Linked DNA regions of Homo sapiens. The protein of the gene in region 1 purifies or fractionates together with the protein of each later gene. This does not show direct contact. Each region holds a gene or a part of one and is shown in the gene's direction. Other genes may lie near its edges.

Region 1 (7,413 bases):
GTCGGGCCTCCGAGCGGACTGGGCAGCACCATGCTCAAGCCTAGGGTTCGATCCCCGCCTCCGGAAGCCTCAGTATCCATCCCTCCCCTCTGCCTCCCTCTTCGCGTGCCTGAATATTTATACAAGATACAGGCGTCATCACAGCCGCCCTCGGCTTCCAGAGCAGCTGGCTTCGTTCATAAATATTATAACCACTCAGAATTCATCATCATCACAGTTAATGATAAAATTCCACAGTGCCAGAACTAAAAGTCATCCGGGTTCACGAACTTGGTGCATTTCCTTCCAGACTTTTAAAAAGAAGATATTTAGGGAATTTTTTTTTCAAGATTTTTCCCCCCAGTCCGCTTACAAAGTAATACCATGTTCGCTGTAAAAAATTTGGAAATAATGGAAATGTATAAAGAAGGAAATAAAATTCTGCTGTATCTCCACCCATGGATTATCTGCAGTATTTTGACTTATTTCCCTCTAGTTTTTCTCCATCTGTTATAAGATATTCATATTTTTGGCTGGGCGCGGTGGCTCACGCCTGTAATCCCAGCACTTTGGGAGGCCGAGGCGGGCGGATCACGAGGTCAGGAGATCGAGACCGTCCTGGCTAACAGTGAAACCCCGTCTCTACTAAAAATACAAAAAATTAGCCGGGCGTGGTTGCAGGCGCCTGTAGTCCCAGCTACTCGGGAGGCTGAGGCAGGAGAATGGCCTGAACCCGGGAGGCGGAGCTTGCAGTGAGCCAAGATCGAGCCACTGCACTCTAGCCTGGGTGACAGAGCGAGACTGTCTCAAAAAAAAAAAAAAAATTCATATTTTTTTCTTTCTTTTCTTTTCTTTCTTTCTCTGTCTTTCTTTTCTTTCCTTTTCCCTTTCTCTTTCTTTCTTTCTTTGCGTCTCGCCTTGTCGCCCAGGCGGGAGTGCAATGGTGTGATCTTGGCTAACTGCAACCTCCGCCTCCTGGGTTCAAACGATTCTCCTGCCTCAGTCTCCTGAGTAGCTGGGATTACAGGTGCCCACCACCATGCCCAGCTAATTTTTGTATTTTTAGTAGAGACTGGGTTTTCACCATGTTGGCCAGGCTGGTCTTGAACTCCTGACCTCATGATCCGCCTGCCTCGGCCTCCCAAAGTGCTGGGATTACAGGCATGAGCCACTGCACCCAGCCCTAGAATATTCATATTTCTTATAAATGAATATTCATATGTTCTCCTTCAGTTTGAGCCAAAGGCATTTGTCCCTCTCCTCTTACTGACTGCATCTGCTCTGGCCACACTGCAAGCCTGGTCCCACCACAGGGCCTTCAAACAAGCTGTTCCCACTACCTGGAATGCTTCTCTCTCAGCCCCCAGCCTCACCCATTAGATTTTTGTTTTTATTTTTGTTTTAGACAAAGTTTCGCTCTTGTTGCCCAGGCTGGAGGACAATGGCGTGATCTTGGCTCACTGCAACCTCTGCCTCCCGGGTTCAAGCGATTCTCCTGCCTCAGCCTCCCAAGTAGCAGGGATTACAGGCGACCGCCACCATGCCCGGCTAATATTTAGTAGAAATGGGGTTTCACCATGTTGACCACGCTGGTCTTGAACTTCTGACCTCAGGTGATCCACCCACCTCGGCCTCCCAAAGTGCTGGGATTACAGGCATGAGCCACCACACCTGGCCCCCACACTGGGTTTTAAGTTAGTGTCTTCTTCCCCGAGAAGTCGTCCCTGGACCCGTATCTGGGATACTTTTTTTTTTTTTTCTTGAGACAGAGTCTCCCTCTAGCACCTAGGCTGGCGTGCAGTGGTGCCGGTGATCTCAGCTCACTGCAACCTCCGCCTCCCTGGTTCATGCGATTCTCATGCCTGGGCCTCCTGAGCAGCCTCCTGGGACAGGCACCACCACACCGGGCTAATTTTTGTATTTTTAGCAGAGATGGGGTTTCACCATGTTGGCCAGGCTGGTCTCGAACTCCTGACCTCAAGGTCAAGGAGTGATCCTCCTGACTCGGCCTCCCAAAGTGCTGGTATTACAGGCATAAACCACCGCACCTGGCCACATTTTTATTTTTATTTGTCTAGTGTAGACGATAGGGTAGGGATGCAGGGAAGCCTCTGGACTTTCCTCTGAGTGGGACCGGCCTGGAAGCCTAGCCCGTTCTCCCACCAGCTCTGTCTCCCCTGACACAAAGAAAATACCCCAATCCCGCAGCCCCTCCCCCAGCTCAACCATTTCTAATTCCAGAGCCCAATGCTGCTCTGGACAATCAAGGGCTTGCATTCTTTTTAAATTTAAATTAAGTAATTAATTTTTTGAGACAGCGTCTCACTCTGTCGTCCAGGCTGGAGTGTAGTGGCGCGATACGGTTTCCTACAGCCTCGACCTCCTGAGCTCAAGTGATCCTCCTACTTCAGCCTCGGGAGTATTTGGGTCCACAAGCACGCGACACCACATCCAGCTAATTTTTAAATTTTTTGTAGAGATGGGGCCTCCCTATGTTACTCAGGCTGGTTTCCAATTCCTGGGCTCAAGCGATCCTCCCGCCTTGGTCTCCCAAAGTGGTGGGATTACAGGCGTAAGCCTCCGCACCCGGCTATTTTTACTTTAAAATACTAAGTCAGTGACGGAAGCTTCCGCACATTCTCGTGGCTCACTTTTCTCTTCCTGGGGAAAAAAGGCAGGAGGTATTTCCGAGAGAGCCACCCATGTAGGAAGCGTGCCTTTGGGCGATCAGGGAGCTGAGCAACCGAAAAACCTCCCCTCCAAGGAGGCGGCAGGCCAGGGCCTGGACCAGCTGCCCTGGAGCCCCCCACAGAGCACGGACTACCGCGTGGGCGCGGAGGGCAGGGAGAATGGGAGGTGGATTTCTTTTTATTTTTTGTTTTTCTGAATTTTCCCAATTTCTCTGCAGTGGATTGGTGATACTTCTATAGTCCGAGTGGGGGAGGAGGGAGCAAACATGTTACCCTAAAAAGAAAAAATAAATTTCCCAAATGTAAACGGTGCGGGGACGTGGGGGTGGGCGTCCCAGTACTCCCAGGGCACTGGGGGCGGGCTGGGGACTGGGTTGGCGGCGGCTGGGCCTCGAGGCGCTAAGTTATTCTGGTCTCTCGGCGCCTCCGCAGCTGGCGAGCTTTTTATAAACAGGACGAGTCACCCCCCGCCACACACACACGCTCCAGCCCCGCCTACTGGGAGGGGTGGGGGGAGAATCTAGGGGATCAGGACTCTCCTGGGGGCCACACACCCCTGGAGGGTTTGAAAGCTGGAGTAGGGGGAGCAGGAGACCCAAAGTGGGGGCTGGGGTTTCGGGCTCCTCCTCCCTCCCCAAATTCTGACTTCCTTCCCTAAAGATTTGGAGGAATAAAAGATGGACCATCTTAGCTCCCAAAAGGCTCCATCCTCTGAGTTTTGCTTTCCCAGGATGGAGGGAGGGGGTCTCCCAGCCCCCGGGTCTTTGAATCCGAGCTTTGAAGAGCTGGAGGCTTCGGCTCGTGCCCTCCCTGTTTCCCGGGGCATTTACCGCAGGCTTTAAGGGGTTTCCGGGACAGGTCGCTTCTCTGTCCCTGCTAAACCTTTTCTTCGAATTTTCTTCTTGATGACGGGGCGCAGGGAGGGGAGGGGGTTCCCAGAGAGTCCATCAGCCCCTTCCTCCTTTTCTGGGAATGGTGGGGAGGGGAGGCTCTCTTGACCTCTACTTCTTTCTTTTCAAACCTCAGAAACGGGGGAGGGGTGGAGTCTTTACTAGCCCCTCCCTCAGTGGGGGGGTCTTACGCCTCGGGAATGGGACAGGGGTCCCTCTTGACTCCTGTTTATTCTTTGGTATTTATTTTGAACCCCATATATGTGAGGGTATAAAACATCTCTTGGGCCTCGATTTTTCTTTTCTGCAATTGGGAGTCAGGGGCATTTAACAGGGGTCACAGCACCTTGGACTAGACGGTGGCCTCAAGAGTCCCCTACCTGGGGTGGGTGCGGGCGGGTAAGGGAACCGCCCCTCGAAGACCGGGGCTCAGCCAAGGCCTCAGCCTCTCGGCCCTTCAATCTCCCAGATGCCACCATTGGACAAGAGGAGGGCGTAGACAATCTCTGATTGGCTACTTCGCCCGTCGCTCGAGAGCTTAAGCCAGTGAGAGAACGCTGAGGGGCCCCGCCTCCCCGAGGCGGACAGGAGGCGGACGAGAGGCGGAGTCGGCCCCCGCGCCGCTCCCGCCCCTACTGGATGCACACGCTAGGCCCCGCCCCATTTGCACGTCAATCTGCTCAGGAGCCCTGCCCCATCTGGCTCTGCGTGCGTCAATGGGCCACATCTCTACGCGCGGCTCCGCCTCCGGATGGCGTCACGGACTTATCTACATGTGAGGCTCCGCCCCTCCCTTTGCAGGACGTCACGGAGGACTGCAGGGGCCTGAGCCGCTGCTGCCGCCGCCGCCGCGCAGCCCCACATCAACGCACCGGGGTCCTGTCACCGCCACCGCCAAAAAAGTCACCGCCGCTAGGGTCGCCGTTGCATCGGTGCAGGGCAAGGTGAGCTCCTGGGCGGCCGGGTGTGCTCAGGCTCCGAGCACCTGCATAACCTTCATTTGACTGATGGGCTGATGGAGGTGGGGGACGAGGTTGACTAGGGTTGAATGGGGGGAAGGATGCGGCGGTCGCGAGGCTGGGAATGGGTAGGGCCCGGGCGCCCCACTCCTGCCTGATCCTCACCACTAACCCCCCCAACCCCCCTGCTCTGCGGCGGAGGGGGAGGGGAGCCGAGCTCCTTGCGGGAAGCTGTGCGCGCGGGAGGCTTTTGCGTGCGCGTGCGCGTGGTGTGCACACGCGTGTGCGCGCCTGCCTGTGTCAGCGGGTCTGTGTGCACCCTTGCTTGTGTACCTGGATATGCTCGTGTGACGCCGTGGGGGTCTGGGCCTAAGTGTGTGAGCGTTGCACGCGCGTGGAGAAAGACGTGTGGACCGCCTGTGCAGGTATGGCCCGTGCATACAAGCACGGGGATCCGTGTCCGTGTGGGTGATGTGCACACGCCTGCATGGGTGGAGGGGCCTGTGCGCACGGGTGGTTTGCACATTTCTATAGGCGAGTCGGTGTGCAAACAGGTGTCTGTGTCTTTGTCCTGTGCACCTCAGTGCGTTCACACACTCCTGTATGTACGGATGAGCGTGTTTGAGGCTGTGTGCACGTGAGCGTGTGCATGCCCCTCCTGTATCATGTGATGCAGCGGCCTTGGCCGGAGCTCTCCGGCCTGGAGGTTTGCGGGGAGCGGGGGCTGCAGATGCGCGTCCTCGAGGGACCATGCACGCGGTGCACGTGGGGCCGCGCGGCCGGGTTCTGAGGACCATGAAAGATTGATGGGGGGCGGAGCCAGCCGCAGTCACCCCCTCCGGGCTCAGCCCTGGGTTTAGGGTTACAGCCCCACCTGGGGCACCTGCCCCTTGAAGGGGGCTGCTGGGGTGTCCCCATCGGCAACCCTCTGAGCCCCTCCTCTGAAACGCCCAGGATTTCAAGGTCACAGGCTGCCCTCTGCTGGGGGCACCACCAATTAATACTGGGGCTCCTGATGGGATAAGGGTGTCCTCCATACACCGGCCGTTTTCTGGAGCCCTTGCCATCTTCTGCCTGGGCTTGGGCACATGAGGATGGAGAGAGCCCCCCTCACGGCTCTGCTACACCCGGTATCCCCAGATGGCATCCGCCACAGACTCGCGCTATGGGCAGAAGGAGTCCTCGGATCAGAACTTCGACTACATGTTCAAGATTCTCATCATCGGCAACAGCAGCGTGGGCAAGACGTCCTTCCTCTTCCGCTATGCTGACGACTCGTTCACGCCTGCCTTCGTCAGCACCGTGGGCATCGACTTCAAGGTCAAGACCATCTATCGCAACGACAAGAGGATCAAGCTGCAGATCTGGGTGGGTCCCAGCTGGAGGGCTCCCGCCCGGCTCGGTTGGATTCCCGTACTTGGAAAAGCAGCCCCAACCTCGTCTATCTCTTTCCTGACTGGAGTCATTCACTTACACACTGGGCATTTATCAGTAAGGTGCCCACTGTGTACCGGGGCAGAAACAGCACCTGTGTTCTCCCATAAGCACCTAATCCTGGTCCCTCAGTTTCCCCATCTTCAAGTTCTTCCATGTATGAGGTTTCAGCTGGATCTTGGTCCCCATTCTCTTTTTTTGTTTGTTTTTTGAGACAGGGTGGTCTTGCTCTGTCCCCTAGGCTGGAATGCAGTTACGTGATCACGGCTCTCTGCAGCCTCGACTTCCCAGGCTCAAACCATTCTTCCACCTGAGCCTCCTGAGTAGCTAGGACCACGGGCTTCTACCACCACGCCTGCTGATTTTTTTCTTTTTTGTAGAGACAGGGTCGGGCTATGTCTGCCCAGGCTGGTCTTGAACTCCTGGGCTCAAGCGATCCTCCCACCTCAGCCTCTCAAAGTGCTAAGATTACAGGCATGAGCCACCCCACCTGGCCTTGTTAGTTTTAAGAGACAGAGTCTCACTCTGTTGCCCAGGCTGGATTTGAACTCGTGGGCTCAAGCAATCCTCCCGCCTCAGCTTCCCAAGTAGCTGGGAGTACAGGCAAGTGTCAGCTTCCTTTAATTTTTAAACCTACAGTTAAATTCTCTCCATCTTCATCTGGCTTGATTTTTCTCCTTGGTCCTTGTCACTCTCCAATATAGGATACATTTATACCGTTATTTTCTATTTCCCACACTGAGTGTCACTTAGCAAGGGAAGTGCCCATCTTGTTAACAACTGTGTCCCCAGTGTCCAGTTCAGGGTGTGGAAAAGATCAGTGCCCAGTCCATGTTTGTTTATTTGTTTGTTTGTTTTTTGAGACAGAGTTTTTGCTCTGTCACCCAGGCTGGAGTGCAGTAGTGCAATCTTGGCTCACTGAAACCTCTGCCTCCCGGGTTCAAGCGATTCTCCTGCCTCAGCCTCCTGAGTAGCTGGGATTACAGGGGCTCACCACCAAGCCCAGCTAATTTTTTTTTGTATTTTTAGTAGAGATAGGGTTTCGCCATGTTGGCCAGGCTAGTCTTGAACTCCTGACCACAAGTGATCCACCTGTCTTGGCCTCCCAAGGTGCTGGGATTACAAGCATGAGCCACCACGCCTGGCCTCTGTTTTCTTTCTTTCTTTCTTTCTTTCTTTCTTTTTTTTTTTTTTTTTGTTGTTATTGTTTTGAGACGGAGTCTCGCTCTTGTCACCCAGGGTGGAGTGCAATGGCGCGATCTCGGCTCACTGCAACCTCTGTCTCCTGAGTTCAAGCGATTCTCCTGCCTCAGCCTCCTGAGTAGCTGGGATTACAGGTGCATGCCACCACGCCGAGCTAATTTTTGTATTTTTAGTAGAGACAGAGTTTCACCATGTTGGCCAGGCTGGTCTCGAACTCCTGACCTCAGGTGATCCACCTGCCTTGGCCTCCCAAAGTGC
Region 2 (7,941 bases), on another chromosome or scaffold:
AGCAACCTCCGCCTCCCAGACTCAAGCAATTCTCCCACCTCAGCTGGGATTACAGTTGTCCACCACCACACCTGGCTAATTTTTGCATTTTTAATAGAGACAGGGTTTTGCCATGTTTGCCAGGCTGGTCTCAAACTCCTGACCTCAGGTGATCTGCCCACCTCGGCCTCCCAAAGTGCTGGGATTATAGACGTGAGCCACCGCGCCTGGCCCCGGCTTCTGAATAGGTCTTCCTTAATTTAGTCAAGCTAAGACCCAGAGTTAACCTTCACAATGTTCCTCATCTAATCACTTGAGGCCTGAACAGAACAAAAAGATGGACCTCCATGAGAAAGAGGAAATTCTCCAGCAGGCTGCCTCCAAATTTCATCTGCACCATCCGGTCTCCAGGGTCTTTAGCCCGCCAGCCCGCACTGGACTTGCCTGTACAAGCACACGAGCCAATTCCTTATTTTATATATACGTATTCTCTCTCTCTCTCTCTCTCTCTCTCTCTCAATCTCTGTTGGTTCTGTTTTCTCTGGAGAACCCTAACACACCACCTTATTGAAAGGATCAAAGTTAAAATCGCCAGTAACTGTAACTGACATGTACATCCTCCCAATGAGATATAGTGAGAAGGGTACAACGTCACTTATGTGGTGTTCCTATGGGAAGTGCATATCCTGAATCTAATTATGAGGAAACAACAGACAAACTCAAACTGACGGACATTCTACAAAACAACTGGCCAGTACTCTTCAAATGTGTCAGTATCACAAAAGACAAAAAGGAGAAACTACTCCCAGTAGAAGACTCTTAAAGGCTGGGAGCAGTGGCTCACACCTATAATCCCAACACTTTGGGAGGCTGAGGCAGGCAGATCACTTGAGGTCAGGAGTTTGAGACCAGCCTGACCAACTTGGTGAAACCCCATCTCTACTAAAAATACAAAAATTAGCTGGGCATGGTGGTGGGTGCCTGTATTCTCAGCTACTCGGGAGGCTGAGGCAGGAGAATCGCTTGAACTGGGAGGTGGAGGTCACAGTGAGCTGAGATTGCACACGCACCACTGCACTCTAGCCTGGACTACGGAGTGAGATTCCATCTCAAAAAATAAAAATAAAAACAAAAACACAAAAATTAGCCAGGCATTCTGGCGTGCACATGTAGTCCCAGCTACTCTGGAGGTTGAGGCATGAGAATCACTTGAACCCGGGAGGCGGAGGTTGCAGTGAGCTGAGATTGAGCCATTGCACTCCAGCCTAGGCAAAACAGTGAGACTGTGTTTCAAAACAAACAAACAAACAAACAAATAAAAAAAACTACCCCCCCCCACACCAACTGGCTGGGCATGGTGGCTCACACCTGTAACCCCAGTACTTTGGGAAGCCAAGGAGGAAGGATCCTTTGAGCTCAAGAGTTCAAGACTGCAGTGAGCTATGATTGTGCCACTCCACTCCAGCCTGGGTGACAGAGTGAGACCCTGTCTCTGAAAAAAAAAAAAAAAAGAAAAGAAAAGACAAACCGAAGTGTTTAGGGGTAAAGAGGTCGGATGTGTAAAACTTAATTTGAAATGGTTCAGAAAAAAATGCTTTATTTGCAACTTTTGTAGAAGTTTTGAAGTTATTTTGAAATACAAAATTTAAAAATTAATTGTTTAATTGACGTCTTTCGTGAGGGGAGGGGCTACCACTGTCTTGTTTTCTGCTGTAGTTCCAGCTCTAGCACACCGCAGGCTTCAACAAGAAATATTTCTTGAGTGAACAAATGAATTAATGAACTAAACCATCTTCCAATTTGGGTTTCAGGCAGGGGCTGGGATTTTGGAAGTCAAGCTTTAGACAGCAAGAGGCAAAATTCCTCTTTTTCTCTAGGTATATCTCTTCTGGAGCTCCAATCTGAGAGGGTAGATCATCTATAGTTTGGGGAAATAAGACCTCTGCCCTCCAAAGGCCGACAGGCAGCCCACAAGCAGGAGATAATTGAGTTGTGCTTTGCAACAAGAAGACCTGGCTGAGTGCCATTTTCTAAGTCAGTTCCCTAAGGTTCACCCTATTCCCCACATCACCACCACCCTTGGTTAAGATTTGTTTTTTAATTTTTAATTGTTATGGAGATAGGGTCTCCCTATGTTGTCCAGGCTGGTCTCAAACTCCTGGCCTCAAGGGATTCTCCTGCCTTAGGCTCCTGAAGTGCTGGCATTACAGGTGTGAGCCACCGCCAGCCAGTTAAAAGCTTTTATAATATCCATTACTATTACTCTTGTAATGCAGCACTTATCTCAAGCTACTGTAACTGTATATTTGTCTGCCCTTTTCACTAAAGTGTGAGACTCTCCTAGGCAGAAGCTAAGTCTTTTCAGCTCAATATCCTCCTATGGGCCAGGCGCAGTGGCTCATGCCTATAATCCTAGCACTTTGGGAGGCTGAGGCAGGCAGATTGCCTGAGCTCAGGAGTTCAAGACCAGCCTGGACAACATGGTGAAACCCTGTCTCTACTAAAAATCCAAAAAATTACCCAGGCATGCTGGTGCTCGCCTGTAATCCCAGCTTCTCAGGAGGCTGAGGCAGGAGAATCACTTGAACCTGGGAGGCAGATGTTGCATGCAGTGAGCCGAGATCGCTCCACTACACTCCAGCCTGGACGACAGGGCGAAACTCTGTCTCAAAAAATATATCTATATATCTATATCTATATGTATATCATCTATATCATCTATTCTCCTATGACTACCACGTAGCCCACCCCATGCTATCCCTCAGCCCGGCCTCAGATCTGGAATCTGGTTCCTGTGCTGTCCCCTTCTGCCCTTGGCTGTCATGCTGCTGCCTCACCACCAGAGGGCCTTCCAGCTGGGCCTCAGAGACCCTTCTTACTGCCCCACCCAAGGTGCCAGGCAGCCAGCACTGGCTCCCCACCCCCTGCCCCTCATCCTGCAGGGTGCCCTATGCTTTTTGTGGAGCCATTCACCTGTCTCTCCCTCCATTTGCCTCAGCTAAGGAGACCTTCCTAGCAAGATCTCAGGGTTGGTCCAGCTTTGCAGCAAAGTTTGACTTCTGCCAGTGTGTGTGTCTGGTCTCTGATAGGGATGCTATCTTCCTGGGAGGCTGTCTTACATCTAAGCTCTCCTCAGGACCAAACAGAAGGACCTCTTTTTCCATTTCCATGTGTCGGAGACCTCCCTAATGACTGCTATTTGCAACCTCATGTTTGTCCAAGGGCTACATGTAGCTCTTGGTTCATTTGTAGAAGGGGCAGAGCACAAGGTGCTTGTGGAAAGGTGGCCACTGCCTGGACCTTTGTGAGGCCCTCAGGGCCAGGGCTGGTCCTACCTGAGGCCCTGGATCACCTGGAGGGACCATCAGCCCATCCACTGTTTCTCCCTAGGCCTGAAAGAGGGACCCTCGTTCAGGATGAAGCTGAGAACAGACTCAGTAGAGAAAGGGGGAGAGAGGTGAATGGAACCATGACCCAGGTAGTATGGAAAGAGGGCTAGGACCCAGCTGGAGCTCCCTGTGTGTTGGGTACGTGTGACTGTGTCTGTGCTCCCTGTATCATTCCTGTGCATTTCCACCCATGAAATTCCCTGGGAAAAGGTCAAGCTCTCTCCACCATGCTAAGTAGGGTGAGCAAAGGAGATGGTTGGGGTTGAGGGCTCAGATACTCAAGGAGGCAGGGATCCCCCGGGGGGATGATCCCTGGTGATAGTGATTGAAATCAGAAGGAGAGAGTTAATGCGGAGGAGTGAGAACCATGGGCCCGACTCGAAAGCTCACTTCCTACTGGCTGTCCTCCATCCCCAGCTCTCCTCAAGCTCTCTCTGCAGAATCTCAGTATGGCATCTGCCAAAAAGCTTACATGGATGATCCCCAAACATGGTCATCTCCTCTCACTTCCCCAGGGCTCTCAGACTCTTCCTTGGGGGACCTGGGAGAGGTTTTCCGGACCTTCCTACTTTTTGACAGCATAACACTGTCAAGCACATGCAAAGTCTGCCAATAACAAGGGGCCCTCCTGACAAGCAGAGATGTTTTCTCTTCAGGGCTGCGGTGATGGGTGGGGGTCACTGCTATGAGGGGACGGTCTGCAGCCATAAGAAGGCTCTTCAGGCTAGAAGGCTTCACTCCCAAGGCCCGCACAGCTGAAGAGACCAAGGGGTTATAGGCTGAGGGCGCTATTGTGCACACCCTCCCACCCCAGCAGAAGTGGTTGGCACTGCAGCGATGCCAAGGCCGGCTGCTTGGGGGTGGGAGGAGGTCGCTGCAGTGATGAGGAATCCCTGCTTGGAGTGAGTGGTCACTGAAGTGGCTGCATGAACTAAAAGTACCTGCAGGGATGGGGGAGGTTTTCTGCAGTGATGAAGAGCACTTTGCAAAGGAAAGGGGCCAGCTTCTTGGGGGAAGAGTCCTGCGGTGACGGTGATGGGGGGCTGGGGGGTTCGCTGCAGTCAGGAGGGAGGGTCTCTGCAGCGATGGGAAGCAACCCAGGGCAGGGGGTGGGGTGGGCTGGGGAATGGGATGCCGTCGTGGTAATGGGATAGCTGGGGTCGCGGCAGTGTCGGTGGCACTTGCAGGACGCCTGATTCCTGAAGAATGGAAAGGGTGGGGTCTCTGAGGCCTCGGTCCTGCAGTGACGGGGATCCGTGCGGCGGCGGGGACGCGGTCCCTGCACTGCGGTGCCCAGTCTGGCTCGGGCTGCCGCGGCTGGCGCGGAGGCGGTACCGCGCCCGAAGGAGGGGGGAGCGCCAGCCCCGCCGCAGCAGCAGCAGGCGTGGCCAGGGCAGGCTGGAGGGGCGGCCTCTCGGAACGGGGGCGGGACCACCGCCGGCAGGGCCCGCGCCCCTGCCGGGACTCAGAGCCGCTGCAGCCACAGTCACGAACTGGCGGCCGGCAGGTGCCGGGACCGAGGGCCACCCGGAGCGCAGAGGCGGCACCACCCACACGGATCCCGTGGGCACCTAGAACTCCGCGGAGGGCGCGACGGTGAGGCTGAGACTGCCACAGGGAGCGGGGCGATCCCCAGAGCCAGCCCGCGGCATCCCCTGCGCGGGCCGCGGCCACTGCAGGTGCCCCCTCCTCCCACATCAGCTCTGCCGGGGTAGGGAGCGGTAACCTGGCGGCTCCCACGGACTCTCCCTGGCCCGACACCTCTCCCGGGCTTGCCTCCCAAAGACCCCCTCTTTTCGCTTTCCCAGCTCGTTCTTCCCACCCTTAACCCCTCCACTCCGGCCAGCACCCCCGTCGGATGAGGCACCAGGGAGAGAAAGACCAAGGCCCTTTCGGCGCCCCATCCACCCTGCCCCCGCGATCCCTCGCAGGGCCGGGGGCCTCCGGGGGGATTCGGGCCCTTTAAACCTCCGCCTTCCCGGAGCATCTTCCATCTCCACCCGCGCCGCTTCCGACAGCTGGCGGCCGCGGGGGGCCCCGGGGGGCCGGCAGGTACGGGGGTGGCTGCGAGGTTGGGAGTGGGCGGTGGAACAGCTGTGACCGCCCCCACCCCCGGGGGAGCCGCGGCGGGACTGCTGGGCGCCGAAGCGCGCGTTAATCATTAACCCTCCGCGGCCCGGCTGCCCAGGTAACGCGTGAGGATGCCCTCCTCGCCACCACGCCTGCCGCCCCCTTATCTCCCCCGCCACCTGTCGCCCTCAGGAGCTCCCGCTCGGCCTCGCGCCCCGGCAGGCCCCGTCCGGGTGCTGGAGTGAGACTCTCGCGCTGGCCTCTGGAGCGCGGGGTGGGCGTCCCGTCACCCTGCGCCCAGCTTCCCCGGCCCGTTCCCGCAGGGCCGGCCTCCCGGCGCCATGCCCGGCCTGTACTGCCCCTCCAGCTGGACGCCGCTGCCGCTCACGGACTCCTGGGTCCGGGCCTGCGCCAACGGCCCCTGCCTCAGCGTGCGGGCCCGGCTCACCTACCGCAACCCGCAGCCGCAGCCGGTGGACGGTGAGGCCCGGGTGGGGCGCGGGCGCGGCGGGGGGTGCGCCGGGCAGGGTCCGACGCCGCCTCCCGCCGCCCTCCCCAGGCGTGTTCGTGTACCCGCTGGCCGAGGCCGAGGTGGTGTCCGGCTTCGAGGCCGAGGCCGCCGGACGGCGCGTCTCCTTCCAGCTGCAGAGCCGGCGCCGCTCGCAGGCCGCCTGCTGCCGCGCTCTGGGCCCGGGGCTGGGGACCCCGACGCCCCGCCGCTGCGCGCAGGGTGAGTTCCGCGCGCCCGCACCCGCGCTCCTGAAAGCCGGGCGCAGCTCAGGCTCCCGCATCCGCTCGGCCTCCGCCCGTCCCCCGCCTTCCTCCGGGCACTGCCTTGTGCATTCATTGGCTCATCCTGGTATTTAGCAGTCGTGGGCTGGGCACCTGACCTGCGCCAGGTGCTGGGAGAACATGGCCCGGAGGTTCACAGCCTGGGAGACAGACACAGCAGGCAGCACAGGGCTTGCGGGGGCGCCAGCAACCCTTACAGCCCAGGAGACCGGTCTCTCTAGGGGGCTGCAAAGGGAGCCTTCTCCCCTGGTGGTCCCCTCCGGCCCCTTACTATTTTAGGCTGCACACCTCAATCCGGCCCCGCGTGGGCCAGTGAATCAAGTGTAGACTCCTGTGCCTAGCAGCCAAGGCCCTCGCTCTCACCCCATTCCATCCCTCTCCCAGCGACCCCATACACCAGGTACCGCTGCCGCTGGCCACACTGACTGACAGGTCCTTTCCCAACTCTCTGCTCTGTCTTTCCATCTTCTATTGAGCAAATTCCTACTTGTCCTTTAAGATCCACTAAACGTCATTCCTAGGGAAACCCTCCCTGACTCTCCCACAAATAGCTGCACTGTTTCCTGGCTCCCCAGCCTTTTGTGCCCCCTCGTTATGGCACTTACAGGGGGAGTCATTGTCACAGATCTGCCTGTCTGTCTCCCCGCTGGAGCATCTCCAAATCCCAGCACCTCACACAGAACCTGGCACTATGAGGCCCAGCGAGTGCCCGGGGAAGGGACAGAAGCCCAGCCCTGTGCTGTGTGCTGTGCTTGCACCTGGTTCTTTCATTGATTCATTCATACATGGCTTTGATTCCTGCCCAGGGGATTTGCAATCCAGGTAAGAAGAAGAGGAACAGAATCCAGTGGTGTTGAGAGCTGGCATAAGCCCAGCACGTTAGGGGCTTGTGGTTAGAGGCTAGAGTGAGCTCTGGGCTGAGGCCCCAGGAATGTTCCAGAAGGAGGTAGAGCCAGCATTTGACTGCAAGAAAGGGTAGGACTCAGTTAAGTGGAAGGTAGGGGCAACAGTATAAGCAAATGCTTATAAGTAGGTTACAGTGGGTAATGACAATAAAATATCTCATGTTTATAGTGATTTACAGTTTACAATCGCTAGTATCACCTCATTTGAATCCCAAGTAGTGGGTAATGCAGGCTTCTTCCTGTTATGGGGGATGGAAGGGGGATAATCCCCCTTCCTCCTGTTATGGGGGATGAAAGTCATAGCAGGGGTCACTGACTTATATGTTGGGTGCTTTGCATACATTGCCTCATTTGTTCCTCACCACAATCACAGAGTTATTATGATCCCCACTTTATGGATGAGGAAACAGGCTCCTCAGAACAAGAGAGCTGCCAAAGGACTCAATTAGAGGTCACCGAGCTGATATTTAAAACTTGATGCTGTGCTGTCTCCACTGTGTCGGTTGGCTGGGATGGAAGCCCCTTTCTTTCTTTCCTTCCATCTTTTTCTTCCCTTCAGTTATTCAGCAAGTATTTATTGAAAGGATGAACAATTGGTCATTGTGAGGAAGTGAGGTACAGTAGGGCTGTGAACGTGGGCTGGGGCCAGACCACGTCGGTGGTGTACACAGCTGCCACTGTACATGGCTGGTCATTATTCCTTTAGCAGCCCCACCAGTCCCCAAACAAACCTAGGAGCTAAATAAAACAGTGTGTGCAGTGTGCAAATGGAGCTTTATGTCCTCCAGCCTGCTTCCTGCTTCTCT
Region 3 (6,248 bases), on another chromosome or scaffold:
TGCTAGTTTTTTATTACATTTATTAGAGACTGCTGCTAGATCTAGTTAATATGATAACAAAGAAGTAGACTTGTACTCTATCAAATATCTGGGTTTAATTTTCTTTTTTATTTTTTGAGAAACAGTCTGGCTCTGTTGACCAGGCTGGAGTGCAATGGCGTGATCTTGGCTCATTACAACCTCTGCCTCCCAGGCTCAAGTCATCCTCCCACCTTGGCCTCCCAAGTAGCTGGCACTACAGGCATATGCCACCATGCCTGGCTAATTTTTTTTTTTTTTTTTGGTAATAGAGACAGAGTCTCACTTTGTTTTCCAGGCTGGTCTCAAACTCCTGAGCTCAAGCAATCTGCCCACCTAGGCCTCTCAAAGTGCTAGGATTACAGGCGTGAGCCACCGCACCTGGCCCATGCCTGTAATCTCTTTGAGAGTCCAAGGTGGGAGGATGGCTTAAGCCCAGGAGGTTGAGGCTGCAGTGAGCTGTTATCATGCCACTGCACTCCAGCCTGGGTGACAGAATAAGACCCTGTCTCAAAAACACAGAAAAAATAAAAATAATAACATTACACCGAATAGGGGATCATGGGCTTCACAAAACTGCCAAAGCAGTCCACAGTAGAAAAAAGGACGAAAACCCCTGCTTAATAGAAATATTCATTGTCCTAACTCAAAGGAATGCTTGACTTTGGGTGTGGTGTTGTCTCTCTGATCTGAGTCCATCTCTTGGTGCCCTAAAGGGGAGAGTCTCTGGGACTCTTGTCCCCATAGCAAACAACTGCATCAACTGCATGCAGGGCATTGGATAAGGGAATGTCCCAGGTGTAGAGAATCAATCAGTTGCAGGCCTACTTGCAACCAGTGGGCTGACAGCGAGCCATACCCTCACATTCGCCTGAGAAAAGTGGCTGCTGGCCTTCTCTCTACTGAGATTTGTCCCCTGATACTTATCATCCTAGCCACAGCCAGCTGGACCAGAGATCTCCCTTGTGTTTGGGTGGTGGCCTGAGGAGTGGCCAGGCAGGAGAGCCGGCCAAATAGGTACTTTCAGATTGAATAACAACTAATCGACCCAGTTGGATCCTGTCCCTTGGGAAGTTGGAATTTGAACACTTGAGGGAGTCGACAGGTGGCAGGGCCAGCAGAATTGACAGGCACACAAAAAAAAAGGTGAAGGGAGAAGGGGAAGTGGAGCCAAGCGTGGGGATTTGCCAAGTGAGGGTGGCCTTCCACCCCATTCATTCAGAGGAGGTCTGGCTGAGCAGCCCCCAAGAGCCCACAGAATTGTGGAGGGCCAGGGGTCCCCAGCTGCGTAGGGCTCATGGGAGAACATGAGACAGGCCAGACACCCAAAATGAGGAAGTTGGGGGGGCTTTTTTCTCAGCCTTCCTGACCTGGCGTGACCTCCTCTGGGCCCATGTAACAGGCCTCCACACCCCCTTATGCCTGGTGCAGGCACCCTGTTAACTTCTATGTCCCTGTAGGTCCCTTTCCAAGGACTCTACCTGCTTGACTGCTCCCAAAGCAGCCAGAGCCAGTATTGCCCCTGGTGGGGAATGGAGCTGGAGAGCAGGCTGGCAGCAAGGAGGAGAGAGGGACAGAGAGGTCTGTCACTCATTATCCCAGAGAAGCATCATGGGGTGGACTCCTCTGACCTGGCTCCTTTTGTTTCCCATGGCTGGGGTCCTTCTTTCCCTCTAGAGCCTGTAACGCCCCCGCTCTGTCAAATTCCTCATACAGCAAACTTATTCTACTCTCTTTACCCAGAAATAGGTCAGACTCAACTACATCCATATCTGATTTCTTCCTTTGTTTTTTTTTTTTTTTGTATGTTTAGTAGAGACAGGGTTTGACCATGTTGGCCAGGCTGGTCTAGAACTCCTGATCTCAGGTGATCCACCCACCTGGGCCTCCCAAAGTGCTGGGATTACAGGTGTGAGCCACGGCGCCTGGCCCCCCAACAGCATTTTAGAGATGAGGAAATGAGACTCAGAGAGGAGTCTGATGGCTATAGTAAGAAATGAGGAGTCAAGCTCCTTAGTGTGCGCTACAAAAACCCTGCACACCTGACTGTGTTTGCAGCTCCCTGCCACCCATTCCCATCCTACCCTCCCTTGCCAAACAGATACACTTGCTTTCTCCAAAATATGCCCTCTCATCTCCAAGTTTTTGCTCCTGATGTTCCCCCAGCTAGAATACCCCTAGGATGTCCTACTGAATTCTGAGTCAAACTTTAAGACTCAAAGTATGGGCCAGGCATGGTGGCGCATGCCTATAATCCCATCACTTTGGGAGGCCAAGGCAGGAGGATCACTTGAGACCAGAAGTCCGAGACCAGCCTGGGCAACACAGTGAGACTCCATCCCTAAAATAAAACACACACACACACACAAAAATTACCGGAGCATGGTGGTGCATGCCTGTAGTCCCAGCTACTCAGGAGGCTGAGGCAGGAGGATGGCTTGAGCCCACAAGGTTGAGGCTGCAGTGAGCTACGACTGCACCACTACAGTCTAGTCTTGGCAACAGTGAGACCGCCTCTCAAAAAAAAAAACAAAAAAAGACTCAAAGTGTGCTCCACTGTTCCTTCAGTGAGGCATCGGGGGCTGTGTCCTAAATGTCTTTGTATCTCCAGCCCTTCACATTAGGGCCTGGCAAGGTAAGAGACCAATAAATATGTACCCTTTGGCTTCATTTCACTAAGTCATTAGGGTCCAGAGGTATGGTCAGCACTTGGAACCCTGTGGAATGGCCTCAAGATCAGAGTCCTCTTGCCCAATTCTTGGCTGGGAAGTAGGTGACATCTAGAATCCATGAGGGTATGGGTGATCTCCTGGGTTCCAGACATTTGCATTGAGTTTATTCAATCACTTAACAATATATATTAGGTCTGGGCTGGGCACGCTGGCTCACGCCTGTAATAATCCCAGCACTTTGGGAGGCCAAGGCAGGCGGATCATCTGAGGTCGGAAGTTCGAGACTCACCTGACCAACATGGAGAAACTCCATCTCTACTAAAAATACAAAATTAGCTGGGTGTGGTGGTGCATGCCTGTAATCCAGCTACTTGGGAGGTTGGGGCAGGAGAACAGCTTGAACCCAGGAGGCGGAGGTTGCAGTGAGCCAAGATCATGCCATTGCACTCCAGCCTGGGCAACAAGAGTGAAACTCCATCTCAAAAACAAAACAAAACAAAAAAACCCAATATATATCAGGTCTGTTATGCTCTAAACACCGTGCCGGGTGCTGAGGATCAAAGATGAATAGAGAAATGAACTGAAATGATATAGTGAAGTTAAAACTTAAAGAACACAACAAATCTGTAAAAGACAAACAAAAGAGGGTTTAATCTGTGCTTCTGTCCAGGTGTGTGGAGCTGGGGGTGGGGTTGCACCTGCCCGGGAGCATTCCCAAGGCAAATATTTGAGAGGAATTAGATTTCTAATACCCAGGTTGGCTCTCACTTTCAGGAAGATGTGAGACCTGAATCCTAACCTGGACGCATTGTTCCCCTAATTCCCAGCAGCAGATCTATGAATTAGCGGTCTGGGTGGCAGCCCATTCTTCTTTCAGAGGCCCAGAACACCGTGAAACTATGCTTTCCTGACTCAAGAGACCCTACCTAGACGTGGGCCCCTTTGACGAGCACCTGCCCCTCAGGAGGGTCTCAGGCGACCTTCTTGGAAGGTGTGACCACTTGAAAAGGACGAGGAGGCCAGGCGCTGTGGCTCTCGCCTGTAATTCCAGCACTTAGGGAGCCGAGGCGGGAGGATCGCTTGAGTCCAGGAGTTTGAGGCCAGCCTGGGCAAGATTGGGAGACACTCCCCACCCCGCCCCATTTCTACAAGTAATTAAAAATTTAGCCGGGCGTGGTGGCGGGAGCAGGAGCCACTCAAGAGGCTGAGGCAGGAGTATCACTTGAGTCCTGGAGGTGGAGACTGCAGTGAGCGGTGATCGCGCCACTGCATTACAGCCTGGGCGACACAGCGAGACCTGTCAATCAATCAATCAATCAATCAATCAAGAGGAGGCTGGCGGGAGCATGCTCGTGACCACCGGGGGCGACATAGACCCTAACCCTAAGTCCAACCCCAAGGCAGACCCCACCGTCCCGCCAGGCGCACTCCTAAGAGCGCGGCTTCCGGAGCAAAGCCGCTGACCCCCGCCCCCAGGGTCTTGGCGCCGATTGGCCAACGAGAGCGCAGGGCGGAGCCAAATCTTAAAGGATCCGGGAGCTAAGCCAGACCCGGGTGGCGGTGGCAGCTGCGAAACCCAGGGAGCCGATGCCACGTGACCCAATGTGGACTTCTTTTAAACCTTTCTAATGCCCATAACCCAGCCTCAGACCCATGGAGCCCACGAGAGACTGCCCGCTGTTCGGGGGCGCCTTTTCCGCCATCCTCCCCATGGGGGCCATTGACGTAAGGTGAGAAGGCCGGGGCGCCCAGGGGCGGCTGACTGGGTGGGTTGTGGGAAGAGACCGGGGTCAACCAGGGTCTGCCTCGCCTCACTCCAGCGACCTCCGACCGGTCCCGGACAATCAAGAAGTTTTCTGCCATCCCGTGACGGACCAGAGCCTGATAGTGGAACTTCTCGAGCTGCAGGCCCACGTACGGGGCGAAGCGGCTGCGCGGTGAGGGAATGGCCCCCGGCTGGCCAATGGCAGGGGCGGGGTCGGACCAGTGGGCGGGGCCCGCGGCCGACGGTTAATCCGGGCGGTGAGACCACGCACGGGCCGGGAGCCAGGCCTGCAACTTAAAGATGCTCCCGGGGAGGCGACCAGAGATGTCCCTTCCTGACCCCGCTTCCCTACTCCAGGTACCACTTTGAGGATGTTGGTGGCGTGCAGGGGGCTAGGGCTGTCCATGTGGAGTCTGTTCAGCCTCTCAGTTTGGAGAACCTGGCCCTGAGGGGCCGCTGTCAAGAAGCCTGGGTCCTCTCTGGCAAGCAGCAGATAGCTAAGGAAAACCAGCAGGTGAGGGCCCGAGAGTGTGTAATGTCCTGGAAGGGCGGTAGCGGGGACGCAGAGATCCAGGTAAGCATCCTGACTCTGATCCCCTTAGGTAGCAAAGGACGTGACACTTCATCAGGCCTTGCTGAGGCTGCCCCAGTACCAGACTGATCTCTTGCTTACCTTCAATCAGCCCCCGTAAGGAGGAAGGAACGGGCGGGTATCTCATGACTGGGTTCCCAGGAGAATCGGGCTGGGAGGGACAGAACAGGGAGACTCACTGGTGGGATCCTCCAAGGAAGCAGGAGTGGGCCAGAGGTTTGGGGTAACTGATACCCAGGTCCTCTGGGGAACAGGAATTGGCAATTTCCAAACCTCAGGCCTGGATGATGTTCTGTCTCCATCTGTTCCCCCACCCCAAGCCCTGACAACAGGTCATCTCTTGGCCCCGAAAATCTGTCACCTGCACCCTGGAGCCTGGGTGACTTTGAACAGCTGGTGACCAGTCTGACCCTTCACGATCCTAACATCTTTGGTCCCCAGTAAAGGCGCTGAAGCACTGCATGATGTTGCTGAGAACTTGGGGACTCGGTTCTGTGAGGGGGAAAAGAGGTTGAAAAGAGGGTTTCCTCTTATTTCTTCCCTGTGCGTAAACATAAGACAATCCCTCTTCAGAATAAACTTGCTTTATAATCAATATAATCTCTGTGCCTTTGAATCTAACAGGACACCTGGGTCCCAGACGCCTGGGAATTGGGTCTCTCGATTCCCTTTGGTTTTGGAGGGAGGAGTTTAAAACTGTGCATGGGAGCAGGAGGGACTCAAGGGTGGCAGTGGTGAGTGGGAGGAAATACACTTTGGGATGACTCGTTCAGCCCTGAGAGAGGGGTGTGAGTTACCCAGGGAATGGGTAGGGAAGGTTTAAAGCAACACCCAAGGAAAGAAGGGAAACTCATCTCTTGTAGTGATTCAACCCTGAGAACAGATGGGGAGTGGGGTTGGCTGTCCCCCATGGATGGATGAAAGGTCACCTAATCAGTAGTCACCAGGACATAGTGGTGGAGGCACAAGTGGCCAAGGAGTGCTCATTTGGTGGAGACTGGGAAAGCGGCTGTTATTTAGTGTCTGTGTAGTAGAGGGAGCGCAGCTGGTCCCAGAAGAAGAGGGAGAGGATGGTGTGGGGGCCGAGGCGGAAGTAGGAGGCACCTATACCCTTGTACATGCCAAAAATGCCCTCGGTCCGAGCTGTCTGCAGCAGAGCGTCCAGTATCCCCCGGTACATGAGGCCCTGAGAGTGTGTCAG

Evidence for each region.
Region 2: the proteins of RAB3A (region 1) and VWA5B2 purify together in Homo sapiens (affinity purification with mass spectrometry; 3 studies listed by BioGRID and IntAct, with this or other methods). This does not show direct contact.
Region 3: the proteins of RAB3A (region 1) and RANGRF purify together in Homo sapiens (affinity purification with mass spectrometry; 3 studies listed by BioGRID and IntAct, with this or other methods). This does not show direct contact.

What each region holds. Positions count from the first base shown.
Region 1 is NC_000019.10:18,200,986-18,208,398, reverse strand, and holds the start of RAB3A (ras-related protein Rab-3A), read left to right. Parts: upstream 1-4,356; 5' UTR 4,357-4,503; intron 4,504-5,658; coding exon 5,659-5,886; intron 5,887-7,413. UniProt on the Homo sapiens protein: The small GTPases Rab are key regulators of intracellular membrane trafficking, from the formation of transport vesicles to their fusion with membranes.
Region 2 is NC_000003.12:184,224,750-184,232,690, forward strand, and holds the start of VWA5B2 (von Willebrand factor A domain-containing protein 5B2), read left to right. Parts: upstream 1-4,835; 5' UTR 4,836-4,964; exon of another isoform or gene 4,965-5,047; intron 5,048-5,603; exon of another isoform or gene 5,604-5,630; 5' UTR 5,631-5,779; coding exon 5,780-5,918; intron 5,919-5,997; coding exon 5,998-6,168; intron 6,169-7,941.
Region 3 is NC_000017.11:8,284,446-8,290,693, forward strand, and holds RANGRF (ran guanine nucleotide release factor), read left to right. Parts: upstream 1-4,224; 5' UTR 4,225-4,343; coding exon 4,344-4,420; exon of another isoform or gene 4,421-4,510; coding exon 4,511-4,627; exon of another isoform or gene 4,628-4,812; coding exon 4,813-4,969; coding exon of another isoform or gene 4,970-5,057; coding exon 5,058-5,143; coding exon of another isoform or gene 5,144-5,147; exon of another isoform or gene 5,148-5,170; coding exon of another isoform or gene 5,171-5,198; exon of another isoform or gene 5,199-5,367; coding exon 5,368-5,491; coding exon of another isoform or gene 5,492-5,539; 3' UTR 5,540-5,642; downstream 5,643-6,248. Other genes in the region: SLC25A35 (solute carrier family 25 member 35), read right to left, coding at 6,060-6,233. UniProt on the Homo sapiens protein: May regulate the intracellular trafficking of RAN. Promotes guanine nucleotide release from RAN and inhibits binding of new GTP by preventing the binding of the RAN guanine nucleotide exchange factor RCC1.